Linked DNA regions of Homo sapiens: all the other regions are linked to region 2. The links come from fine-mapping of genetic effects on plasma protein levels. A gene starts in region 2. Each other region holds a variant in brackets. All regions are shown on one strand. Distances are between the middles of the regions.

Region 1 (8,187 bases), 21 kb before region 2:
TTTGTAACCCACTGGCACATTGGCATTAAGACCTAACTTGAATTAACATAAGGCTATAACATTTTTATTCAAGCTATTTAAGGTGAATAATCCCATGTTTTCCAATAGATATATTAATATGTTTGATTCTGGGTATTTTCCCAGACTCTGCTGGTAATATCAAGTAATATGTATTATTATCTTTAAATAGGAAGATTCCAAAACATATCTGGTACCAATCGTTTAGATGAAATATCACCGTCTAGCAAGATAAACAGAAAGCTTGGTTTTACTTGACAAAGCTAACCTACCTCACAACACTAAGAAAGAACTTCCCACAACTCTCTTTAGGTAGAGCCAAGACTCTGGAGGAGGTAAAAAGGTAGGAAAAGATTGAGGAGGCAGGAAGGAAAAGGAGGGAAGAAGAGCTAAGAGATTACTCTCTTGTTTTGTGACCAACTTTTTTTAACTTAAAAATAATACATCACAATTTATATTTTAATTTTAAAAATTTATATAGCAATATAATACCATATGAATGTCACATATATAAGGCTATATATGTTAATATAACATATGGTATATGGTAATAATTTTATGGCAATAAATGTTCTTCTACAATATGATTCATTTAATTTCCAGTTGTTGGACATTTTGTACCTGTGTTCATGATACTATTTTTCCCTCTTTCCTCCAGCACCTTGGAACACTGAGTAGGAGTAATGATTCCTTGTATATTTTATTTTATTTTGAGACAGAGTCTCACTCTGTTGCCTAGGCTGGAGTGCAGTGGCACAATTTCAGCTCACTGCAACCTCTATCTCCCAGGATCAAGCAATTCTCCTGTCTCAGCCTTCCAAGTAGCTGGGATTGCAGGCGCCTGCCACCATGCCTGGCTAATTTTTGTATTTTTAGTAGAGACAGGTTTCACCATGTTGGACAGGGGTCACAAACTCCTGATCTCAGATGATCTGCCCGCCTTGACCTCCCAAAGTGCTGGGATTACAGGCCACTGCACTGGACCTGATTCCTCTCATATTTTATGTATTTTTTCCTTTTGTAGCTCTTTCTCTTAGACCTACAAAGGCAATCAAGGCTCTCTCGTTTGTTGAGAAACACACACACACACATACACACATACACACACATTTCTCCTGACCATGAGTCTCTGTTAAACCATTGTCTTGCTTCTCTTCTTCTTGTCTCAGATAAGATTTCTTGGGGAAAAAAGTGCATTCACTTCCCTTTGACTTTTCAACCCAATATAATCTGCCCATCATCCTATCATTATGAGCTCAGAAAATTCTGCCAAAATTATACTCAAAAATGCTAATAATGGTCAACGTATTGTGTTAATACACCTCATGATTTCTTTCCTCCAAGAGTCTCTACTTCCTTGGCATCTACCAGATGTTCTCTTTTTAAATTTTCCTTTATTTCTTAATTGTATTTGCAGGTTTCTTGTCCTCTGTCCTTTCCTGCCCCAAATACCGAAGCTCCCAAAGGTTCTACTTTGTCAATAGTTCTTTACTGTCAGTACAGTCTCCTTTGTCGTATCATTCACTGTTGTTTGCTTAATTGCCCCTTGTATCTTGCTGATTTTTGAAACAATATTTCTAATTCTAGTATCTCCCTTAAGCATCAGACCAAAGTATTCAACAGACAACTGGCTGGGTCCAGCTGAATGTCTCATAACTACTTCAAAACCAGCACATCTATAACTGAACTCAGCCTCTACCCACTGTCAGTGAGTCTGCTCCTCTCTTGCCTCCTGATCTGTCAGATGCATCTCACCCACCCAGCCATTCTTGCCAGAAATCTGCCACATTCTGGACTCTCCATTCCGTTTTCCTGTTCCACATCAAATTGGCCACTGAGTTCCATTTTCTAAATATGTCTAGACTCCATGCCCTGCTTTTATTCCAACAAACACAGTCTTGGTCCAGACCCTTAATAAGACTATTTTAATAATCTAGTCTTTTGGGTCTTTGCTCCATCATCTACAGAGTAGTAAAAATGATATATTCAAAGGTAGATCTGACCACATCATTCCTTCACTGGACCACTTCCACCAGCTGACCATCACCCACAGAATAAAGGCTGAATCTTAAGTGTGCTAGGTAAGATCCTGCAGGACAGGATGTTGCTTCCAGGCTTATTTCCCACCAAACCCAGCTTCGCAAGCCATGCCTCAGTTGCCTTAGTAGCACTGACCTGTTGCTGTTCCCTGCAGACCCTGCTCCTGCCTGCATCCACACCCTTGTTCATGCTCTTCACACCACAAAGAATCCCCTCCTACTCTTTTTCACCTGGATAATAGCATCAGCTCCAGAAACTTCCCTGCATTCCCAAATTAATCTAAGTAGAGCTCTTTAGTACTCCTCCAGCAAAATGTGCATTCTACGGACAATCACATGCCAACCTATGCTGAAATTATCTGTTCAAATGTCTTTCTCCATTACTAAAGACTGAATTCTTCAAGAGGAGGATCTATGCTTATTTATCTTCATATCATTAACACTAAATAAATACCTGGCATATAGTAGGCCTTCATTTGCTAAAACGAAAAAGTATTGTTAGGGTAGTTATCATAGAGCAAACAAAATACTGTGCAGTTGGCATAATTTCAGCACTCAAGGGGTTCTCAGTCTCAAATAAGTAAGTGAATACTATGACATAATATGTCTTTGATAAAGCTAAGCATAGGGTGTCCTGGGAGCACATAAAGGATGTACTTAACTCATCTGGAGAGGTAGGAGTAGCTCTGTGGGAAATATCCAGGAACCCCTCTTGGTGACGATAACACCAGAAAAGTGCTATGAAAGATTAGTAGGTGGGGCTCGCCACGGATAAAGGACCAAACAATCTGTGCAAACACCTTGAGGTTCTGCATATGCTAGCAAATAGGAGATGGGAAAATATTTCAATATTGCAGAAGCCCAGGATATTTGTAAGTAGAAGTGAGATTAGAGGATAGAGAATAGGAAGGGACCACACATCTAGACTTTGTGTGTCTTTCATGTTAAGAAATTTGATTTGTCAATTAGAAGTCAGTGAAGAATTTTAAGCCAGACAGTATTATAATCAAAAACAGCTTTTTGTGATTTCTGTAACTACAATATGGAGAACTGACTGGATGGAGCTGAGATTGTCAGACTGTCAATAGGAAGCCCTGTTAAGTGAGATAAGATGGGGGCCAGACCAAGGAAGAGAAGAGAAGAATGAGAGGACCATGGAGGCCACTTGCGAGCAATGAGAGATTGGATCTTTGCAGCAATAAACCATTCCATTGAACTATCTTGGTGGTCAACCCCATTCATATCCAGGATATACTTAGTGTCAAACTCTTTATAAAGCAAGATAGGCATTTGTGAACATATAAGGAAAATGGCTTAATTTGTTCAGGCAGGAAATAAAATGGGTTTTCAATGAACTCCTGTTATAATGATCTGTAATTTGAATATTTATTTTTAATACTGCTACTGCAAGTAAATGTCCTGCCTTTTCCCAATCAGCTTAAAATTGAACTGACATCTAAGGTTTCAAGGTTTAGCAAATAGGCAGGGCACGGTGGCTCATGCCTATAATCTCAACACTTTGGGAGGCTGAGGTGGGCGGATCACCTGAGCTCGGGGAGTTTGAGACCACCCTGGCCAATATGGTGAAACTCTGTCTCTACTAAAATACAACAACAACAAAAAAATTAGCCAGGCATGGTGGCACTCGCCTGTAGTCCCAGCTACTTGGGAGGCTGAGGCGTGAGAATTGCTTGGCCGAGGAGGCAGAGCTTGCAGTGAGCTGATGCACCACTGCACTCCAGCTTGGGCTACAGAGTGAGACTCTGTCTCAAAAAAAAAAAAAAAAGATTTAGCAAATAAATTTAGCCTGTATTTGTAGGCTTCCCAGCTAAAGTTGAATTTCAAATAAACAACAAAATTTTTAGCATACATAAATCCCCAAAAGTGTGATATGCTTATACTAAAAAATCATTCATTATTTATCTAAACTGTATATTTAACTGAGTGTCTTTATTTTATCCAGTAACTCTTCTGACATCAAAATATTACCTGTAGATAATAGCGCCCTTCCACAGTGTGCAGTCCGTCAAATGCCCCTAGAGCGTACACTTCATTTGGTATGTTCTCAGACATTTTGTAGCTTAAATGACAGCAGAGATCTTTCTGACAAACTGTATAATTTCCTGCAACTCCTGTGAGCTTCACAAAAGTGAATTCATCGAAAAAGACAGTGCCTTTAAATTCCTTGTTTCCTGATGAGAGCGCTTCTATACTGCTGGCATAGGAAGTCCAGTTCACCACTGCAGAATGGGATGGGTGGGAATCCAGTTGCGAGAGGAGGAGTTTTCCCTCTTCTGTCTTCATATCATAATGAAATGCTCTTGAAGAATTGGGTGCATAGATGCCACTTCCTGGAAGTAATAAGTTGAAAACATCATTTGAAATTGGAAAGTAAAAAGGGATTTCATAATTGTTATTACTATTTTAACCTCATATTCACATTTTACTCTCTCTAAGTTATATGTTTTATTAATTTCAGTAAAACATGCTGATAAAGACAGAGAAGTGAGAGGAAATCAATTAAAGTATGAAACCAAGAAGCCAAGAAGGGAGAGTTGTATGTAAGAAGTCATATATTTTGAAAAAAAAATCAAGTTAAATAAAACCAAATAAATCTACAAAACAATTTAGACTGAGATTGATTCTATAGCATATTAACAGCTAGATGTTCAAAAATTAAGAGCTGGAAAACATTGTATTAAGGAGTATGCGTTAGCTAGAAAAACATGTTTTTTTTTTCTTTTCTTTTCTGATTACATCAGCCTGCATATCTTTAAGATCACACATTACCTGTCATTTTCTTTGAGGGGTAATGTATGTTGGATGCAAGGAAATTGACCCTCATGCCCATAGCCCAA[G/A]CTGAGTGGAATTCAACAGCTGACAAATGTGGCAAAACATTCATCCAAGCTGTTGGGAATACTATGGTGTCCACGTGGAAATCTTTCACCAAGGTAACAGCAGGATCATGGAAGAGTATATCAAAGCATGTGAAAATGCCAAAACTTCCAAAGGTGGTATTGAAAGTCACAATCTCAGGCTCCTTGGGTACATTGAATTGATTTTCACCCATGAAAAGGTTTTGCTGCAATAAACAGAAGATAAAGAGAAAAAAATTATTTTAGGAAGTTGATCTGGACATCACAGTGTGGGAAAAAGTACAAGCTCACATCTTAGTGCCAATTTCATCTATGATCAGTGTTTTCATGGGAAATGAGTTTGCTTTAGAGAATCAGAGGCCATTCTAGCTAAACTGGGCCTTTAGTTCAGTCTCCACATTACAAATATGTACATGGGTATCTTTATCTATAAAGACCCACTGGAATCTTATAAGACATAAAATAGATTACTTCTGTTTGCCAAGTAGACTTAACTGTTTTCCTTGGCAAGGAACTTTGTTTGTTCCATTCTCCTCAAGACAGAGTCTATGTGGTAAGCAGTTTTTCATTCTAGCCTTGACCCATTGCCAGGGTATGCCTTTAAAAGGACAAAGTCCAAAAGGCAACATTAGGCAACATAATGCATGCGGCACTTTCTGACTGCTACACACTCCTGAAAACACACTCCTGTGTTCTTATATGTACACGGAACCCCTTAAGCCTCTTTATAGGAGCTTTCCACGCTTTATCATTACTTTCTATGCTTTGCCCCTACTCGATTTCTAAAGTGTGCTTATCATTATCAATAACATATTTTTCTCCTTGCCCACTTTATTTCATTAGGCATTAACTAATTGGATTATTTGCAAATTAATTTTACCTTATGGTAGCGTGCCACCAGTTTTCCTTGAGAATCAAATACCACATCAGTGTTGTATTGGTAACGGCCATCAGGGGGACACTGAGGATCACTGGTATCGCATGGCTTCTTGTCCCCAATATTTGCCACAACATAGATAGAGTTGTTCTTGGCCAGGCAGCTGAGTCTTTCTTGTACTGGGGTCTGGCCAAATCTGATACATGTTTATTGGAGGAAAAAAATCTTTGTAAATCAATCTTAACTCTCAACAAAATCCTGAATGATAGTTGCCTAAACCTATTATTTGATATATGCAAAAGTAAATTCTAAATAACAATAATTAGAAGAGAAGTATTAAGACAAGAAAGGAGTTCAGAGGAAGCCCATGCTTGAGTAAAATTGGTTGTAGGAACCTACTGTAGGATAAGATTCCAGACCACGTATTTTTTCTTCATAGCATTTATCGTAATCTATAGTCATATTTTCACTTACGTGTTTGTCTTATAATGTCTGCAGCATCCTGTGGATATCATAGATCAATGACTTACATATCCCGTTTACTAAAATTTTGTCTAACAGAAGAGAGGCATTAAAAAATATCTTGGGGTGGGTGTGGTTGCTCATGCCTGTAATTCCAGCACTTTGGGAGTCCAAGGAGGAAGGATTGCTTGAGCCCAGGAGTTTGAGACCAGCCTGGGCAACAAAGCAAGACTGTCTCTCTACAAAAAATGAAAAAAAAAAAAAATAGCCAGGCATAGTGGTGTGTGCCTGTAGTCTCAGATATTTGGGAGACTGAGGTGGGATGATTGCTTGAACTTGGGATTTTGAGGCTACAGTGAGTTCCACTGCATTCCAACCTGGGCAACAGAGCAAAACCCTGTCTCAAAAAACAAATTTTGGGGGGCCAGGTGTGGTAGCTCATGCCTGTAATCCCAACATTTTGGGAGGCCGAGGTGGGTGGATCAGCTGAGGTCAGGAGTTCGAGACCAGCCAGACCAACATGAAGAAACCCCGTCTCTACTAAAAATACAAAATTAGCTGGGCCTGGTGGCGTGCGCCTATAATCCCAGCTACTCAAGAGGCTGAGGTGGGAGAATTGCTTGATCTTGGGAGGCAGAGGTTGTGGTGAGCTGAGATCATGCCATTGCACTCCATCCTAGGCAACAAGAGTGAGACTCCATCTCAAAAAAAAATTTTTTTGAATGAGTTAACAAAAATTTAGAGGTAGAGGGATGCTGGGAAGATAGCAGAGCAGGGAATTTTTCTCCCCACCTAGATAACAATTGCACTGTTGGAATCTGTCTAATATTACTATTTTGGAGCTCTAGTGCTTGCAACTTCCAGAAGAATGCTTGGAAGGTAACTTACAGTTAATTTCAGTCCATTTTAGCTCTTAGCTCAATAGTGGTTACCAATTCCTCATCCCCTGTCCCTGTGACAGGCTGCCATGTCTGTGTTCCTAAAGCAGCTTGCAGGCAGCTTATGGGAGCAGGGTGGACAATAATGACCTTGTCTTTCAAATATACGAGATCTGCATTCTGATCACTAATTGTTGCTTCTGATCATGGAGGTACAAATGCAAAGGCAAGCAGCTATTGTTGTGTATACATACAGACACACCATTTTTGCAGGCCCTCTTTCTGGCTGAAGTGGCTTCCAGGAGATTTAAAGAACCAGTGTCTTATTTATTTATTTATTTTCTCTTTTTCTCCTTTGGATAGTGAGACATTTAAGGAATAAGCAATTAAATATACAGGGAAATTTAGAAAGTCGCCATACATGCCCAGGGAAAGGTACAGACTCATAAAAGGTCTAAGAAGACCTTAAATTTACATCTCAAGCTGATCCTCAACACAAACATCCTACAACAACAAAACAAACAAACAAACAAACATAGCAAACCCAGAGAATCTGATTCCCAGAGTAACCATGTGATAAGATTCAAATGTCTAGTTATCAACCAAAAAAATCACAAATCATACAAAGAAACAGGAAAGTATGACTCACTCAAAAGAAAGGAAAAATAAACCAACGAAAATCATCCCTGAAAAGGACCACATGACAGACCTACTAAACACAGACTTTAAAACAATGGTTTTACAGAAGCTTAAGAAAATAAAGGAAGATGTGGAGAAAATCAAAAAACAAAACAAAGTAGAAATATCAATAAAAAGATAGAAAACCTAAAAAGAATCTGGAGCTGAAAATTACAATAACTGAAATGAATATTTTATAGGAGGATTCGAAGACCAATTCAGGCATGTAGAAAAAAGAAACAGTGAACTGGAAGACAGGACCATTGAAATTATTGAGTCTGCAGAACAACAACAAAAAATATTAAAGAAAATTGAACAGAGCCTTAGGAACACCATTGAGTGTCCAACACATGCACTGT
Region 2 (8,187 bases):
CTGAAATCTCACTGTGATGCCCTCAGACGACCTTTTAAAATTTCAGCCCCACGCTTGCCACCCTATTCACCTTCCCCACTTTATTTTTTCCATAACATTTACTTCCACCTCATATCATAGATAGGTAGACAGATGAAAGATACCTATATAAAGATAGGTAGATAGATAATAGATAGATGATAGATAGATGATAGATAGATAGATAATTATCTTTTTAAAACATTTATTACCTCCCCACACTAGAATATAAATTTCAAGGGGACAGGAATTTTTAATCTGTTTTGTTCACTTCATTGCCCAGAACAATGTTTAGACATAATAGGTACTCAAAAAAAATTTGCAGAGTTAATAAATTAAGGCAGCTGGGCGTGATGACTCATACCTGTAATCCCAGCACTTTGGGAGGCCGAGCAGGTGGATCACTTGAGGCCAGGAGTTCAAGACCAGCCTGGCCAACATGGTGAAACCCATCTCTACTGAAAATACAAAAAACTAGCTGGGTGTTGTGGCTCACACTTGTCATCTTCGGGAGGCTGAGGCACAAGAATTGCTTGGACCTGGGGGATAGAGGTTGCAGTGAGCTGAGATCACGCCACTGCACTCCAGCTTGGGCGACACAGAGTCTCTCTCTCAAAAAAAAAAAAAAGAGAGAGAGAGACAGAGAGAATTAAGGCAAGACATTCAGACATCATTAGTTGATGGAAAACATAAATGGGCAACCGTGTTCCTTGAAATGAAGTGAATGGGACATCCTTGTGGGGATGTTCAGGAGGCCCTTGGAGATGAGGTTCTAGGGAAAGGCCATTCAGAAATAAGTCAATTCAATTCATAGTGGAAGTGATAATAGAGTGCTTGCCTTTTAGAAACTGAAGCACTGACATATGACATGATTAAATAAGAAATAATTATGGTACAATTAAATAAGAATAGAGTAAATGATTATGATAAATAACACTGGAATTTATCAAAATCCACCTTGTCAAAATCAAGGTGTCTCTGTAAGTAGTTTTTGTGGGTTTGTTTGTTTGTTTGTTTTTGAGACAGAGTCTAGCTCTGTTACCCAGGCTGGAGTGCAGTGTCACTCTCTTGGCTCACTGCAACCTCTGCCTCCCAGGTTCAAGCAGTTCTCCCTGCCTCAGCCTTCCAAGTAGCTGGGATTATAGGTGCCCACCACCACGCCCCACTAATTTTTGTATTTTTAGTAGAGATGGGGTTTTGCCAAATTGGCCAGGCTGGTCTCAAACTCCTGACCTCAGGTGATCCTCCTGCCTCGGCCTCCCAAAGTGTTGGAATTACAGGCATGAGTCACCACACCCAGCCAGTTTCTGTGGGATTTTTAATTTTAGTATTATTATTATTATACTTTAAGTTCTGAGATACATGTGCAGAACATGCAGGCTTGTTACATAGGTATACACGTGCCATGGTGGTTTGCTGCACCCACCAACCCATCATCTACATTAGGTATTTCTCCTAATGCCATCCCTCCCTTAGCCCCCGACTCCCCGACAGGCCCCGGTGTGTGATGTTCCCCTCCTTGTGTCCATGTATTCTCGTTGTTCAACTCCCACTTATGAGCGAGAACATGCAGTGTTTTGTTTTCTGTTCCTGTGTTAGTTTGCTGAGAATGATGGTTTCCAGCTTTATCCATGTCCCTGCAAAGGACATGAACTTATCCTTTTTTACAGCTGTGTAGTGTTCTGTGGTATATATGTGCCACATTTTCTTTATCCAGTCTACCATTGATGGGTATTTGGGTTGGTTCCAAGTCTTTGCTATTGTGAACAGTGCTGCAATAAACATATGCATGCATGTGTCTTTATAGTAAAATGATTTATGATCCTTTGGTATATACCCAGTAATGGGATTGGTGGGTCAAATGGTATTTCTGGTTCTAGATCCTTGAGGAATCACCACACTGTCTTCCACAATGGTTGAACTAATTTATACTCCCACCAACAGTGTAAAAGAGTTCCCCTTTCTCCACATCCTCTCCAGCATCTGTTGTTTCCTGACTTTTTAATGATCACCATTCTAACTGGCGTTGTGCGGTTTTGAGAATAGTTCCAAAAGAGGAATTCCTAAAATAATTTTAGCCATGTGTATTCAGAAAGAAGTATGTGAATCGACATGATTTTCTTAGGTGTATAAGATATTGGTTTCCTTACATTAAAATTAATAGTGCTGCTTTCACCACACTTAATATCTCTGTAGCCGAGACCTGACTTAAACCACTTAAAATCCTGCCATATCACCTCTTAGATTACAATCAGCTTACACTTTAAGGACTTTACTACATTAACCTCATCAGCTATCTTAGCAATGAGAAAGGAAAACTATTAATCTTAAACTGATGTGACTCTCTTTTGCCATTTACTCATATAGTTTTCAAATCACAGACCTACACAGGGAAATATTTTTCTGTTCACTGGTGAGGAGTCAGAGACCAGAGATGTTCACACTGAATGTGATGATTTCTAAGCTACTTTCTAGCTCTGACTTCTGTGACTTCATAATTCATATTTGCTCTCCCAGTAAATATACCCATAGTAGATGAAAAATAAGCTATACTGAAACTTAAGAATTGATCATGGATCTATGCAATGATCATCAACAAAGTTTTCCCAGGTAAATCAAGTTGATGTTTACTAGTGAATTTTTCACAAGTTGTTTCTTTACCTGTTACGATTATTACAGGGGATCCAGTTTACTTCAGGGTCTGGGATGTCCTCCAAATATGGGTAGAGAGAGTCCCTGTTGAAGTTCCAGCCATAAATAGCATCTTCTGGAGTCACAATAATATGCGCACCCTGTTAAAAATGCAACTTAATCCAAAGGGGGGCCTGCAAGAGGAGCTGAGGAGCTGAGTGGCTGAGTAACAACTATTTGGGCTTCCCCCACACCCCTTAAATCTTATTTTGTTTTCTATATTTTTATAATTTATTTTCTTTTCCAAAGCATTTTAATTTCCTTTTTTTTCAGTGCACTGTCACTTCTTTTTCTTTTTCTTTTCTTTTCTTTATTTCTAATTTTAGATTCAAAGGGTACAAATGCAGGTTTGTTGCATGGATATGTTACATAATGGTGAGGTTTGGGCTTCTAGTCAAGCATTTTTTTTTCTCTCTTTTTTTTTTTTTTCAGATGGAGTTTCGCTCTGCTGCCCAGGCTGGAGTGCAATGGCTAGATCTCGGCTTACCACAATCTCCACCTCCCGGGTTCAAGCGATTCTCCCGCCTCAGCCTCATAAGTAGCTAGGATCACAGGCATCTGCCACCACGCCTGGCTAATTTTTGTATTTTTAGTAGAGATGGGGTTTCTCCATATTGGTCAGGATGGTCTTGAACTCCCAACCTCAGGTGATCCGCCTGCTTCAGCCTCCCAAAGTGTTGGAATTACAGACATGAGCCACCGCACCTGGCTTAGTCAAGCATTTTAATTTTCTAATCCTGCCATTGTTGTTTCCTATGGCAGTCGTTAACTATAAACCTAGCTTATCCTGGAACCAAGCCTCTCCTTGAACTTTCGCTGATGACTGTGCCTGTGTCAAGACTGATTAATAACTTAAATATTCTGTTTATTTCCTCCTCTGCCCTAGCTTTCCCCTGCAAACATGATTCCTGCTTCTCAGAAAAAGAGGAGCCACAAACTGGTTACTTGAACTGTCCCATGCCTACAAGTACTGCCTGAGCTAACCTGGGCACCTTCCAATTAGAGAGTCACCTTAAAAAGCTCTGTGACCTTCAAGGAAATAGTTGGACTAAGGATGAAAAAGAACATCAGAACTCCTGATAACCTTTTAAATATTAGTATATATAAGAATATAGGGCAGTCACGGTAGCTCATGCCTGTAATCCCAGCACTTTGGGAGCCCAAGGCAGGTGGATCACCTGAGGTCAGGAGTTCAAGTACAGCGTGGGCAACATGGCAAAATCCCATCTCTACAAAAAATACAAAACTTAGCTGGGCACGGTGGCATGCATCTGTGGTCCCAGCTACTCTGGAGACTGTAGTGGGAGAATCACCTGAGCCCGGGAAGTCAAGGCTGCAGTGAGACGTGATCACACCACTATACTCCATCCTGGGTGACAGAGTGAGACCTTAACTCAACAACACAAAAGAATATATATTTATAGATATATGTAATACACATTTATCCATGACTTTTATCACACTTCATGTATTCCTGGTCTACACCTAATCGATCAATAGCTTTTAAAATAATATTTGTGTAAACCACAATTTATACTGTATGATTAACTTCAAACTGAAACCTTCACTAAACTTAAGGACTCACAATGCATTACATATACTTTTATCTTGTAATTAGAATGAAGTGTGAAGTATATAATGCATGCTGGCAAGGAATTGAAAACTTAAATTTGTTTTCAGATTATAAATTTATTCGAAAACCTGCAAAGCCTTAATAGCACATGAGTACATGAAGGCCACTAATACTCTGAAAATAGCACCTAGTCCCTGACCCATTTATCCTCCATCCTCCATCTGTACCAGAAAAGGGGAACAAAGATGTTGAATTTATGGCCAGTTCCTCAAAGGTCTGCTGCTTCTTGATAATGAGCAAATTGTTCTTTTCTTAACTTTGTTCTTACTTTTAGGGAAGTCCTTGCTCTAATTTTGAGAGGAAAGTAGAATTCTAACTGTAAAATAAAGGTTCTTGGCTACTCTGATACATATATCATCTAAAAGTGTAACTGACCCTGACAGTGGCCCTGTCTCCTAGGACCCCCTCCTTTCTCATAGAATCCAGTACACTGGAGAGATGGTAGAGATGGTACCTGATCTGCTGCTGATGTGATCGCTCCTTCCAAAATGTCCAGATTCCGATTCATTAATGCCAAAGCCTCCTCACGAGACACTGGTGTTAGGGTGGCATTGGGCAATATCGCTGCATGCTCATAAACAGCTGCAGTGAAAGTGTCCTGGCAGCTGGCTCTTGAGACATAGAAAAGCAAAATTGCCACGTAAGCTGGCAACTGAGTAGTCATGCTGAAGTCCAATGAGTGCTGAAAAACAGAGCATGTCCTGGTATTTATAGAAAGAAGACACGTGGTGTCCAGAACTTAGTACCTTAAACTACGGAAGTTAATTAAGAAAACGCTATGATTTCATAGCATTGTTACATAACAAAAGACCCTACCTTATTGCAGTAATTTGTGAAGATTAACTCAAGAACTCTATGTACATTAGTTCGCTAGGGCTGCCTAACAAAATACAATAAACTGGGTGGTGTAAAAAATAAAAAATTTATTGCTTTGCAGTTCTGGAGGGTGGGAGTCCCAGATGAAGGTGTCAGCAGAGTTGGTTCCTCCTGAGGGCGGTGAAGGAAAGATGTGTTCCAGGCCTCTCTCCTTGACCCATAGATGGCTGCCTTCTCCCTGTGTCTCTTCATATGCTATTCTCCCCATGTGTGTGCCTGTATCCAAGTTTTCCCTTTTTGTGAGGACACCACTCTAATCTTTAACACAGGGAAAGGGAAAATCCCAGCTCTAGCTTTTTTTGTCATCGTTGTTGTTTGTTTATTGTTGTTGTTGTTTGAGATGGAGTTTCACTCTTGTCACCCAGGCTAGAGTGCAGTGGCGAAATCTCGGCTCACTGCAACCTCCGCCTCTCGGGTTCATGTGATTCTCCTGCCTCAGCCTCCCAAGTAGCTGGGATTACAGGCGCCCGCCACCACGCCAGGCTAATTTTTTGTATTTTTAGTAGAGATAGGGTTTCGCCGTGTTGGGCAGGCTGGTCTCAAATTGCTGACCTCAGGTGATCCACCTGCTTTGTTTTTATGCCAAATAAGGGCAGAAGAAAAAAGCCAACTGAAGGTCATAAACCCAGGGGTACAGGCTCACTGAAAGACTGAGACTCAATCATAGGACCAATTCGATTTAGTGCCCACTGTACTCCAGTATAACTTCATCTTAACTAATTAGATCTGAAATGACCCCTTTTCCAAAAAAGTTACATTCTAAGATACTGACAGTTAGGACTTCAACATATAAATTTTTGGAATTCATATATTTTGGAATGTCAACACAAGACATTCAAATAATTTTAAAACTTTATTATTATTTTCATGTGAATATTTCAGCTCTACACTTTGATTTACTTTATTTTCCTCAAAATGGGGAAGCCAGGACAAAGAGGAATACAAAAGAGTTACTCATTTTCTATTGCTATATAACAAATTATCCCCAAATTCAGCAGCTTCAAAAAGCAAAAATACATCATCTCCCACTTTCTCTGGGTCAGGAATCCAGGGGCAGTTTAGCTGGTGCCTCTGGCCCAAGGTCTCTTTCACAAGGCTGCAGTCAAGCAGCTGCCAGGGCTAGCTATATCAAGGCTTGACTCCAGGAGGATTCACTTCCGAGCTCCAAGCTCCCTCATGTGGCTGACGGCAGGGATCAAGACCTCATTGGTTGTTGCCCAGAGACATGAGTTCCTAGTGATGCAAACCTCACCATAGGGCAGCCCGCATTATGGTATCTGGATTCCCTTAGAGCCAGACAGCAAGTGAACCCACTGGAGATGGAAGCCACGGATGCTTCGTAATGTAATTGGGGAAGCAACACCTCATCGCTTTTGTTGTATTCTATCCAATAAAGCATTAGGAACCATCTTTGAAGCTGCTTATCACAGAGGCAACAGAGGTGTATAAAGAATCAGAGCAAAAAAAAGAAAAAATGAGCTGGGGAGCGAGATCCAGAGAGAGGAGAGGGAAATTATATAAAATAGAAAAACTGTTCATAGATTTTGATATTGAGTAAGCTGGCAAATTTTGTTTCAGTTGTGCATTAAGTATAATATTTACAGAATTAGTGTTTATGTTTTTCCATTTTATTTTTAGATCTATTTGTCTTTGAATGGTATTTTTATAGTTCAATCTGCAAACAGGCATATCTAATTTTTTACTTTAGTAACTATAATGCATTTATTCTGCAATTGCCAAGGTAACCCAGGGGTTGTGGTTGGCTGGTTCTCCTGAGTTTCCGGTAAACACCAGCTTCTCTAACTGCTTGCTGACCTCTTAGGGCCTTTCCATGCCCAGGTGGGTGGGAATACCACATATTTCACAAAAAGATGTCATTATTATGTAACAATTTGTAAAAGGAAGCACTGAAATAAAAGTTAAAACTGAGATGAGTTGGCAAGAGGTTAAAAAATTACTTCTTGACCTTCTTAGATTAAAAATATTAAACCTCCCGTGGAGTTTCTAGTCCAACTCATAAAGAGCTTGGCAGTCATTTTTCCCATGCTCACACCAAGAAAAAAGCTAAACAAATGAAAATCGACAACTTTTCTAGGATGCATCAGAGAATTGAGATCACAGGATAAACTGCGGTCCTCAGAACTGCAGAGATAGGCAGATACAGAGGTTAAGAGTGTACTGCGAGCAGAGTCCTCTGCGGCTGGCGCCAGTACCGTGGGTTCACTTGAACTGTAATTGACGAATTGGTGGAGGCTCAGGGTGGACAACCTTGAGAGTTCTGGTCTGTTCTTCTTAACAAAAGCCTGCCCTCAAAGTAAAGTATTTTACCAGAGCCTAACCTACCTAGGGGAAGGAAAAATGCCAACCCCAGCCACTCTAATCTTTAACTTGGGGAAAGGGAAAATCTCATCTCTAGCTTGTTTTTATGCCAACTAATGGCAGAAGAAAAAAGCCAAGTGAAGTTCATAAACCCAGGGGTACAGGCTCACTAAAAGACTGAGACTAAATCATAGGACCAATAACCTTGTCCCTCCTCCAGCATGTCACTGCCACATGAATCTACCCTTTCTGGCCTACTTAGCATGTACTAGCTGAGAGCAAATCTTCAGATGAAATAATGCAGTTCGGCCAGGCGCGGTGGCTCATGCCTATAATCCCAGCACTTTGTGAGGCCGAGACGGGAGGATCACCAAAGGTCAGGAGTTTGAGATGAGCCTGACCAACATGGAGAAACCCTGTCTCTACTAAAAATACAAAAATTAGCTGGGCATGGAAGGGAGCAGTGTGGGGGGCGGGGGCGCCTATAATCCAGATACTCGGGAGGCTGAAGCAGGAAAATTGCTTGAACCCGGGAGGCGGAGGTTGCCTCGAGCCGAGATTGCGCCATTGCACTCCAGCTTGGTGATAGAGTGAGACTCCGTCTCAAAAAAAAGAAAGAAAGAAAGAAAGAAATAGAAATAGAAACAGTG
Region 3 (8,187 bases), 26 kb after region 2:
ACACTCAGAGCAAGGAGGGCAAAAACTGCCACACATTTTGGAAAATGTGATATAATCATAACTAAAATTTAGTGATCTTTGAAAAACAAACTCAGATTCTTACGTTTTGTTTCACTGGAAAAACTTTACATTAAATCCCTCCTGGCAATCAGCTGTTTATATTTTCTTGCACATATATTACACAACACAGCATTGAGAAAGGATGTTGTGCAAGAAAACTGACAGCCAGGACGTAATTGGATTGATTCAAGTGTACAGTGCAGTTGTTGACATTGTTCAGAGTCAAGTCAACACTAAAAGATTGAGCCAACCAGATGAATTCACCCCAGTCCAAAACACACTGGCAGTTGAAGTCTTTTCTAATAAAAAAAAATTTTCCTGGTAAGCCAACATTTCTATTAATAGGGCCAATATTGGAAGGTAGTCATCATAGCAACAATTTGTTGAGCACTCTACTTACATATTTGTATGGCCATTTCTATTTGAAAAGCCCTTGTTCTCCATCCGTCTAAGTTCCAGCTCCCCCTAGAGTCCTCCCAAATCCACTCCAGTCCTAAGTGATATTTCTGAACTCCTATAGCATTTTTTTCTGTGCTGCTGAATGTCTCTCACTCCTTGCTGTTGTCTTGACCTTTAATTTAAATATTATACCAATACTTAATATTATATATGTATGTTTTGTCTTCTTAAAGAGATTAAAAAGAAACTTGCTGTTTTCTTTCAGAACATCCATGTCCAATAAACATCTAGACAGAGATGATGTATCCTGGGATGTGGCCCCTGGAGGGTAAGGGAAGTGTCCTGCTCACTGTTGAACCTCATCACCCCAGCACATGTGTGACAGATGGTGAAAGCTCAATATATGAATGAATGTTGAATGACGGAATCTACTACCTGATGGGCCAGTCTATTCCACCTTTGAACATTGCCAATTTTAAGAACATTCTTGTTATTGAGATGCAATTTACTTTACCTGTCTTCTACAGTTTAAACCCGCTTCCATATGAAGACTAATCAATAATTCAAAAAGTGTTAAGTTCTCCTTTAATTCTTTTATTTTTTAAACATATCATCCTTATAAGTCCCTTAAGGGCAGGGTCACATTATAATTCTCTGCTGCTTCTATAGAATTTTATACTGTGCTAAGCTCTGTAAATGTTTTTTGATTAGTTAAATTCACTTCCCTCGCCCAATTTTGGATTGAATCTCCTTGTTTGAATATCAGTTAATTTAAAATGTAGAATTTTTTTTAAGGTTTAAATCTCTGATTCTAGAACAATTAACACTGCTTCTCCCTCTTGAGATTCTTTCTAAGATCTAAGGAAAATTGTAAGTTATGGAGATTTGTGTCTATTTTGGGTTTGGTTTGTTTCTATAATTCAAAGTCCCTTGGTTTCAATAAACTTTTCCATTATCCAAATATTTCTGCTCCCAGATACCCCACAGTGTTTCCATATGTCCTTATGCCCTGATACCATTTCAGGAAATAAGGACATATGAACATAAATTCAGCCCTAAATTCTGAGTTTATGTCTGACATAAATTGTTTTCATCAGACATCAGACATAAGTTCTTTTCCAAAAAAATTTCTGAGGAGAAGAGGGAAACTATGTAAAACAGATGGATTGATCTGGGATGAGAAGAAAATAATTTTCATATTTCAAGTTGAAATTCTAACTCTTTTCTTGGTTCACCTGACTTTCTGAATAGAATCAAAAGGAAACATATGGGAATTCCCCTTCATTCTCCCAGCCCCTAGTTCCAGGAAATGTACCAGCTTTTTTTGTGTGTTGAAATCAATAGAAACTTGAGTTAAATATTTGATTACCCAATGTTGTTAGTAATGTCTTTGCTTCCTAGGTGTATAAGGCGTGCAGCTATGAGTTATTTGAAACACTGTATTGGTACATAATCCTTATGACAGTCTGGCATTATTGTAGGATTAAGAAGTTTAGAGTCAGAAGTTTTGTATTACAATAAATATAATTCTTCTTTTAAATATGTAAGGGACACATCTTAAAGGAGAGGTGCTGTAATAAAATATCTAAGAGTTTACTGGCTTTCCCCAAATCTTTATTTCTAAACTCATTGTAAAACCTCCTCTCCATTCTCCTTATCAAGTTCCTGACCCCATAAATAAGAATTCTTTCAGGCTCTCCATCAGCCTCTCTGATCCCACTCCTCCCACCCTAACCCTCAATACTGTAATCCATTAGAGTTCCCTTGACCATTGCTGTCATTAATTAAGATACTTCCCATGCATATATTGAATCAAAGCAGACAGTAAGAGCCTTCTTTCTCTTGGTTCCATTTTATATTTTGTGTTCTTAGCTAAAAGTACTCTTCTTATTGTAACATGATCACTGTTGCTCTGATCCTGGAATGATTCTGACCAAATCCTGCCTTTCGAGCTCAAATCCATTGCCTCTCCAGTCTTGTTGCTATTCCCTTCTCTAAACTCTTAATGCACTTATGGCCAGTAGCCACATTGTTGTTCACTGTCTTTCAGTCCCTTACTCTACCCTCTCCCCTGGCCCCAGGTTTTTTTCTACTTCATACCTTCAACTATCTTCTACAAAAGGATAATGACTGTGTCTCTATCTTTAGCTCAAACTTCCGTTCTGAACTTCAGGCCTATTTATCCAACTCAAAAGAACTCCTTTCCACAAGCTCCCACCAAGTATCAACCCACCTGCCAGCCATTTGTACCTGTAAATTCTGCCTCCCCCCATCCTTACTGTAAATGACTCCTCTTGACCCTACTTAAGTCTAGCCCCTATCTTTGAGCACTGGATCCCAAGGACATTGCTCTAGAAGTTCTTCTCTCTTACTTTGTTTATTTTTTTGTTTGTTTGTTTTTGAGACAGGGTCTCACTCTGCCACCCAGGCTGGAGTGTAGTGGTATAATCTTGGCTCACTGCAACCTCCACTTCCCAGGTTCAAAAGATCCTCCTGCCTCAGCCTCCCAAGTATCTGGGATTACAGGCATCTGCCCCCCACACCTGGCTAATTTTTGTATTTTTAGCAGAGATGGAGTTTTATCATGTTGGCCAGGGTGGTCTCAAACTCCTGGCCTCAAGTGATCTGCTCACCTCGGCCTCTCAAAGTGCTGGGATTATAGGCGTGAACCACCAATGCTCGGCCTTTTTTTTTTTTTTTTTGAGATGGAATCTTGCTCCATCACCCAGGCTGGAGTGCAGTGGCCCAATCTTGGCTCACTGCAACCTCCGTCTCCCAGGTTCAAGCAATTCTCCTCCCTCAGCCTCCCGAGTAGCTGGGCTTTCAGGCGCACATCACCATGCCTGGCTGATTTTTGTATTTTCAGTAGAAACAGGGTTTCACCATGTTAGCCAGTCTAGTGTAGAACTCCTGACCTCAAGTGATCCACCCACCTCGGCCTCCCAAAGTGCTGGGATTATAGGCATGAGCCACCGTGCCCAGCCCCATTACTGTTTATCATCAATTTTTCTTTCTCTATTGGATACAATAAAGAAAACACAAATATCCTATTATATATTCTACAACTATCCTGTAACATTTTCTATCTTAAAAAAAAAAGCCTTTTGATCTGACATCCCCTTCCAATTCCTGCTCCATTTCTCAGCTTTATTTTATAACAAAATTCCTTTCCACGATGGTATGTACTCCTTGCCTCAATTCCTGTCCTCCCAATGGACAGGATTTTACCCCCATGACTTCACTGCCTTGTCCAGTTCCCATTAATCTCCCTATTACTAAGTCTGATGGTCAATTCTCAATGTCATCTTACTCAATGTCTTGGTAGTACTTGACAAAGCTGCCATTATCCCATTCTTAATGTACTTTCTTCTTCACACCCTTTTAGTTTTCCTCTTTCTTTCTTCTTAGTTTTTGTATTTGTTTACTTTGTTTTGTTTCTTTGGACTTTTTCTTCTGGTTTCTACTCATCATCCCTGACTTGGCAACACTGGTGCACCCTGGAGCCCAACCTTTGGAAGTCTTCTGTTCCTATCTACACTCACTTCCTAGGTGATTACATCCATTTCATCTCTTTAAATACCATCTATATATTTAATATTAGTGACTCACAGATTTATATATCTACCTCAAACCTCTCTTGAGAACTCTAGACTCTTATATC[T/C]GGCAACAGTCTACTCAAAATCTCCACTTGACTGTATGAAGGCTTATCTGATCAACATGAACAAAACTGAGCTCCTGACCTTCTGCTCCTGATGCTCTTTCACCAGCAGTCTTTCAGATCTCAATTAACGGCTTCTCTCATCTCCCTTTTGTTCCGGCCAAAACCCTTGGAGTCACCCTTACTTCTTTCTGTCTCTCTCACTCTACACACGTTCAAGCAAGTGGTCTTTTACTACACCAACTGTGGTCCAAGCCGTCATTATCACTAGTCTGGATTATTCCCAAACCCTTGCACCTGGTTTTTGTACCACTACTTCTACTTTTGCACAACAACAATCAGAGCCATTCTATCAAAATATAAGACTAATCATATCATTCCTCTGCTCAAAACCTATCAATGGCCTGGGTGCAGTGACTCACACCTGTAATCCCAGCACTTTGGGAAGCCAAGGCGGTCAGATCACCTGAGGTCAGGAGTTTGAGACCAGCCTGACCAACATGGAGAAACCCCGTCTCTACTAAAAATACAAAATTGGCTGAGCACAGTGGCATGCACCTGTAATCCCAGCTACTCAGGAGGCTGAGGCAGGAGAATCACTTGAACCCGGGAGACAGAGGTTGCAGTGAGCCAAGATTGCACCATTGCACTCCAGCCTGGGCAACAAGAGTGAAACTCCATCTCAAAAAACAAACAAACAAATAAACAAACAAAAAAACCTATCAGTGGCATTCGATTTTACTCAGAGTAAAAGGCCAAGTTCTTACAATGCCTAAAAAAACCACTATAAGCTGTCACTTCTAACAATTCCTACTACTTTTCCCATGTTCACTCGGCTCCAGTTGCATTGACTTCTTTGCTGTTCCTCAAGCATGTCCCTGTACTGTCTCCACTACCCTGAGGGGACTGCTGCAACTGGCTCCTTCCTGGCCACTCTGCCTTTAGAACTTCTTTCTCCACTCCATCCTTCAAAAAGCCATCAAATTTATCTAGTTTTTAAACTGTTTAGTCCCTCATGGCTACTTGACTCTAAAACTCTTCAATGTGTCTTTCTCTCAGCTTCTGGATAAAGTCTAGACTTCATTTGTGTTTCAACACTGACTCTGGACTATCTCTCTAGTCTTATTTTTTACATCGTCTGTCCTTATCCTTCCTCCTTGCATCCTCTTCCTCCGTAATACATTAAACACTGCTTGAAGCATACTTCCATGTCTTTGCATGCATGACTAACTCTATTGAGAATGCCCTGATTATCTTATTCTGCTTGTCTGTGACATCCTTCTGGTCTTCCAAGGTAGAATTGATCCATTTCTGGTCCTTGTATTGATCATAGCACTAGCACGCCTCAGCCTCCAAAGTGCTGGGATTACACGCATGAGCCACCATGCCCAGCTAAGTTTTTTTTTTTTTTTATGTGATTGTTAGCTGCATAAATGTCTTCTTTCGAGAAGTGTCTGTTCATGCCCTTTGCCCACTTTTTAATGGGGTTGTTTGTTTTTTTTCTTGTGGAAAAGAAGTTCCTTGTAGATTCTGGATATTGGGCCTTTGTCAGGTGGATAGATTGCAAAATTTTTGTTTAAGTTCCTTGTAGATTCTTGGATATTGAATCTTTGTCAGAAGGATAGATTGCAAAAATTTTCTCCCTTTCTGTAGTTTGTCTGTTCACTCTGATGATAGTTTCATTTGCTGTGCAGAAGCTCTTCAGTTTAATTAGATTCCACTTGTCATTTTTTGCTTTTGTTGCAATTGCTTTTGGTGTTTTTGTCATGAAATCTTTGTTTGTGCCTATGTCCTGAATGATATTGTCTAGATTTTCTTCTAAGGTTTTTATAGTTTTGGGTTTTACATCTAAGTCGTTAATCCATCTTCAGTTAATTTTTGTATAAGGTGTAAGGAAGGGGTCCAGTTTCCATTTTCTGCCTGTGGCTAGCCAGTTTTCCCAGCACCATTTATTAAATAGGGAATACTTTCCCCATTGCTTGTTTTTGTCCAGTTTGTCAAAGATCAGATGGTAGTAGATGTGCAGTATTTTTAAAATTAATTTCTGAAATGCAAAATGAAACAGAACAGGGAAGCAAAGGTTTATAACATAACTGATCAAAGCTTTTAGCAGGGTTGTTCAATCCATATTCAAACAATATAAGATGTCACAGAATTCTTGAAGACAGGTAAATTGAAATTAGTCAGTTCACTCTCATTATTTTTCTCCTTTGACTTAGCTTCACGTGGTCTAGAAATTCTCAAATAAATCGTTGATTTTTTTTTTTTTTTTTGGACACAAGATCTTGCTCTTTTGTCCAGGCTGGAGTGTAGCGGCGTGATCACAGCTCACTGCAGTCTTGACCTCAGAGGCTCAAGTGATCCTCCCACTTCAGCCTCCCGAGTAGCTGAGAACACAGACACACACCACCACACCTGGCTGGCTTTTTGTATTTTTGGTACAGACAGGGTTTTACCATGTTGCTCAGGCTGGTCTTGAACTCCTGAGCTCAAGCAATCCTCCTTCCTCAGCTTCCCAAAGTACCAGGATTACAGGCATGTTTTCTTTCCCATTCCAAGTACTTTCTGTCTTATTTACATACTCAAGAAATCCTCTTCACAGTTGTCCCTGTTTCTTTGTCCAAATGTCTTCTCAGGAATGCTTTCATTGGAAGTAGCTGCGTGTGGCTCAGTGTAAGCATGTGAGTGTGGGTGTGGGTATAATAACCATATTGACCTAAGCAGGCATCCAGCCTCAGATATCTTTTAGAACATTATCACCCATGGACTATCTTGGAATGATGGTCAGAATGGAGTTAGAAATGTAAAAAGAATTTAGGAAAGAGGCCAAAACAGAAAGAATGCTGACAGAAATCACCTGTACAGAGCAATGAGCCAACACTATGAGGACAGGTCAAAATGCAAAGAAAGTAGAAAGTAGGGGCAGTGTAGTTGCAAAGCAGGTTGTGAGCATATCATAGAAATTATGGAAATAGATCATATCAAAGGGGGCAATGTCACAGAGTGGCAAAGGGAGCAAAGAGAATGCATAGACCACTGTCTCAGTACTTAGTGCTTGGGATATAGTAAGTGATCAATGCTTCCTGAATGAATGAAGGAAGGCTAGGTAGTGAGCCCTGAGAGAAGGCTGCTGCTGAGCATGTGACTTTGTAATACAGGGGGCTGTAACCAGGAAGTTGTAAAAGAGCATTTCAGGAAAAAAGCCTAATGAAAGCCAAATAGGAGAAAATAAGAGCTTTGTTTACTATCTCCAGAACCACAAGGGACTCAAGAACTAACATGAAATTTTAGAATGGGATGAGGCCGGGCGCGGTGGCTCACGCCTGTAATTCCAGCACTTTGGGAGGCCGAGGTGGGCGGATCATGAGGTCAGGAGTTCGAGACCATCCTGGCTAACATGGTGAAACCCCGTCTCTACTAAAAATACAAAAATTAGCCAGGCGTGGTGGCGGGCGCCTGTAGTCCCAGCTACTCAGGAGGCTGAGGCAGGAGAATGGCGTGAACCTGGGAGGCGGAGCTTGAAGTGAGCCGAGATCGCACCACTGCACTCCGGCCTGGGCAACAGAGCGAGACTCTATCTCAAAAAATAAATAAATAAATAAGTAAAAATAAAATAAAATGGGATGAAAGATAGTTATCAAAGAAATATAAAGGCCAAATGAAACTATGCTTGGGTTGTTTGATAAAATAAAATGTATGTGAGAAACCACGGTGGAGATGGGTTAAAATGTGGTGCAGGCAATTTTACAGTAGAGCATTAAGTGCTCTTTAATTTCCTTGGCACTTGGTGCTTTCGTTTTTTGTTTTTATTTTTAACAAACTGAGGTACAGCTGAGAGCTCCAAGCTTGAATCAGAACTGTCCCTTTCTGTGAAAGGAGCTCCTTGCTTGTATCTTACTCAAACCAGTTTGTTTAACGTCAGCTGTTGATTTTCAATCAACATCTAAACTTCTGCAAATGAAACGTCATTGCCCAAGAGCCAAAATACATGCTGCAAAACCACTGCACAACATCTAACTTCCTCAAGCAAAACTTGGCAAATTTTAAATGTCCCATACTTTATGAAAAGG

Which allele goes with the higher level. Positions count from the first base shown, and alleles are read on the strand shown. Strength reflects both the effect of a copy and how common the allele is.
For the plasma level of the protein whose gene starts at base 5,026 in region 2, allele A in region 1 goes with a lower level than allele G (moderate association).
With allele C in place of T in region 3, the plasma level of the protein whose gene starts at base 5,026 in region 2 is higher (moderate association).

The links. PIP is the posterior inclusion probability: the model's chance that the variant is causal. The UK Biobank Pharma Proteomics Project read protein levels with antibody pairs (Olink). The fine-mapping took linkage between variants from a reference panel, not from the people measured, so its PIPs are less certain.
Region 1: its variant is fine-mapped to the plasma level of the VNN1 protein (UK Biobank, PIP above 0.99). The variant lies in the coding sequence of VNN1. If it changes the protein, the assay may bind it differently, which can mimic a change of level.
Region 3: its variant is fine-mapped to the plasma level of the VNN1 protein (UK Biobank, PIP 0.95).

The regions. Positions count from the first base shown.
Region 1 is chr6:132,688,177-132,696,363 of GRCh38, forward strand. VNN1 (vanin 1) reads right to left here. Exons shown (of 7, transcript NM_004666.3): 3 at 5,814-6,006; 4 at 4,848-5,139; 5 at 4,047-4,408. Among named protein-coding and RNA genes, the nearest start is that of VNN1, 22 kb to the right of the region's middle. The variant G/A (reference allele first, on the strand shown) is at 4,916.
Region 2 is chr6:132,709,030-132,717,216 of GRCh38, forward strand. VNN1 (vanin 1) reads right to left here and starts at 5,026. Exons shown (of 7, transcript NM_004666.3): 1 at 4,797-5,026; 2 at 2,680-2,810. The coding sequence starts at 5,006.
Region 3 is chr6:132,734,634-132,742,820 of GRCh38, forward strand. It overlaps the pseudogene VNN3P. Among named protein-coding and RNA genes, the nearest start is that of VNN2, 19 kb to the right of the region's middle. The variant T/C (reference allele first, on the strand shown) is at 4,121.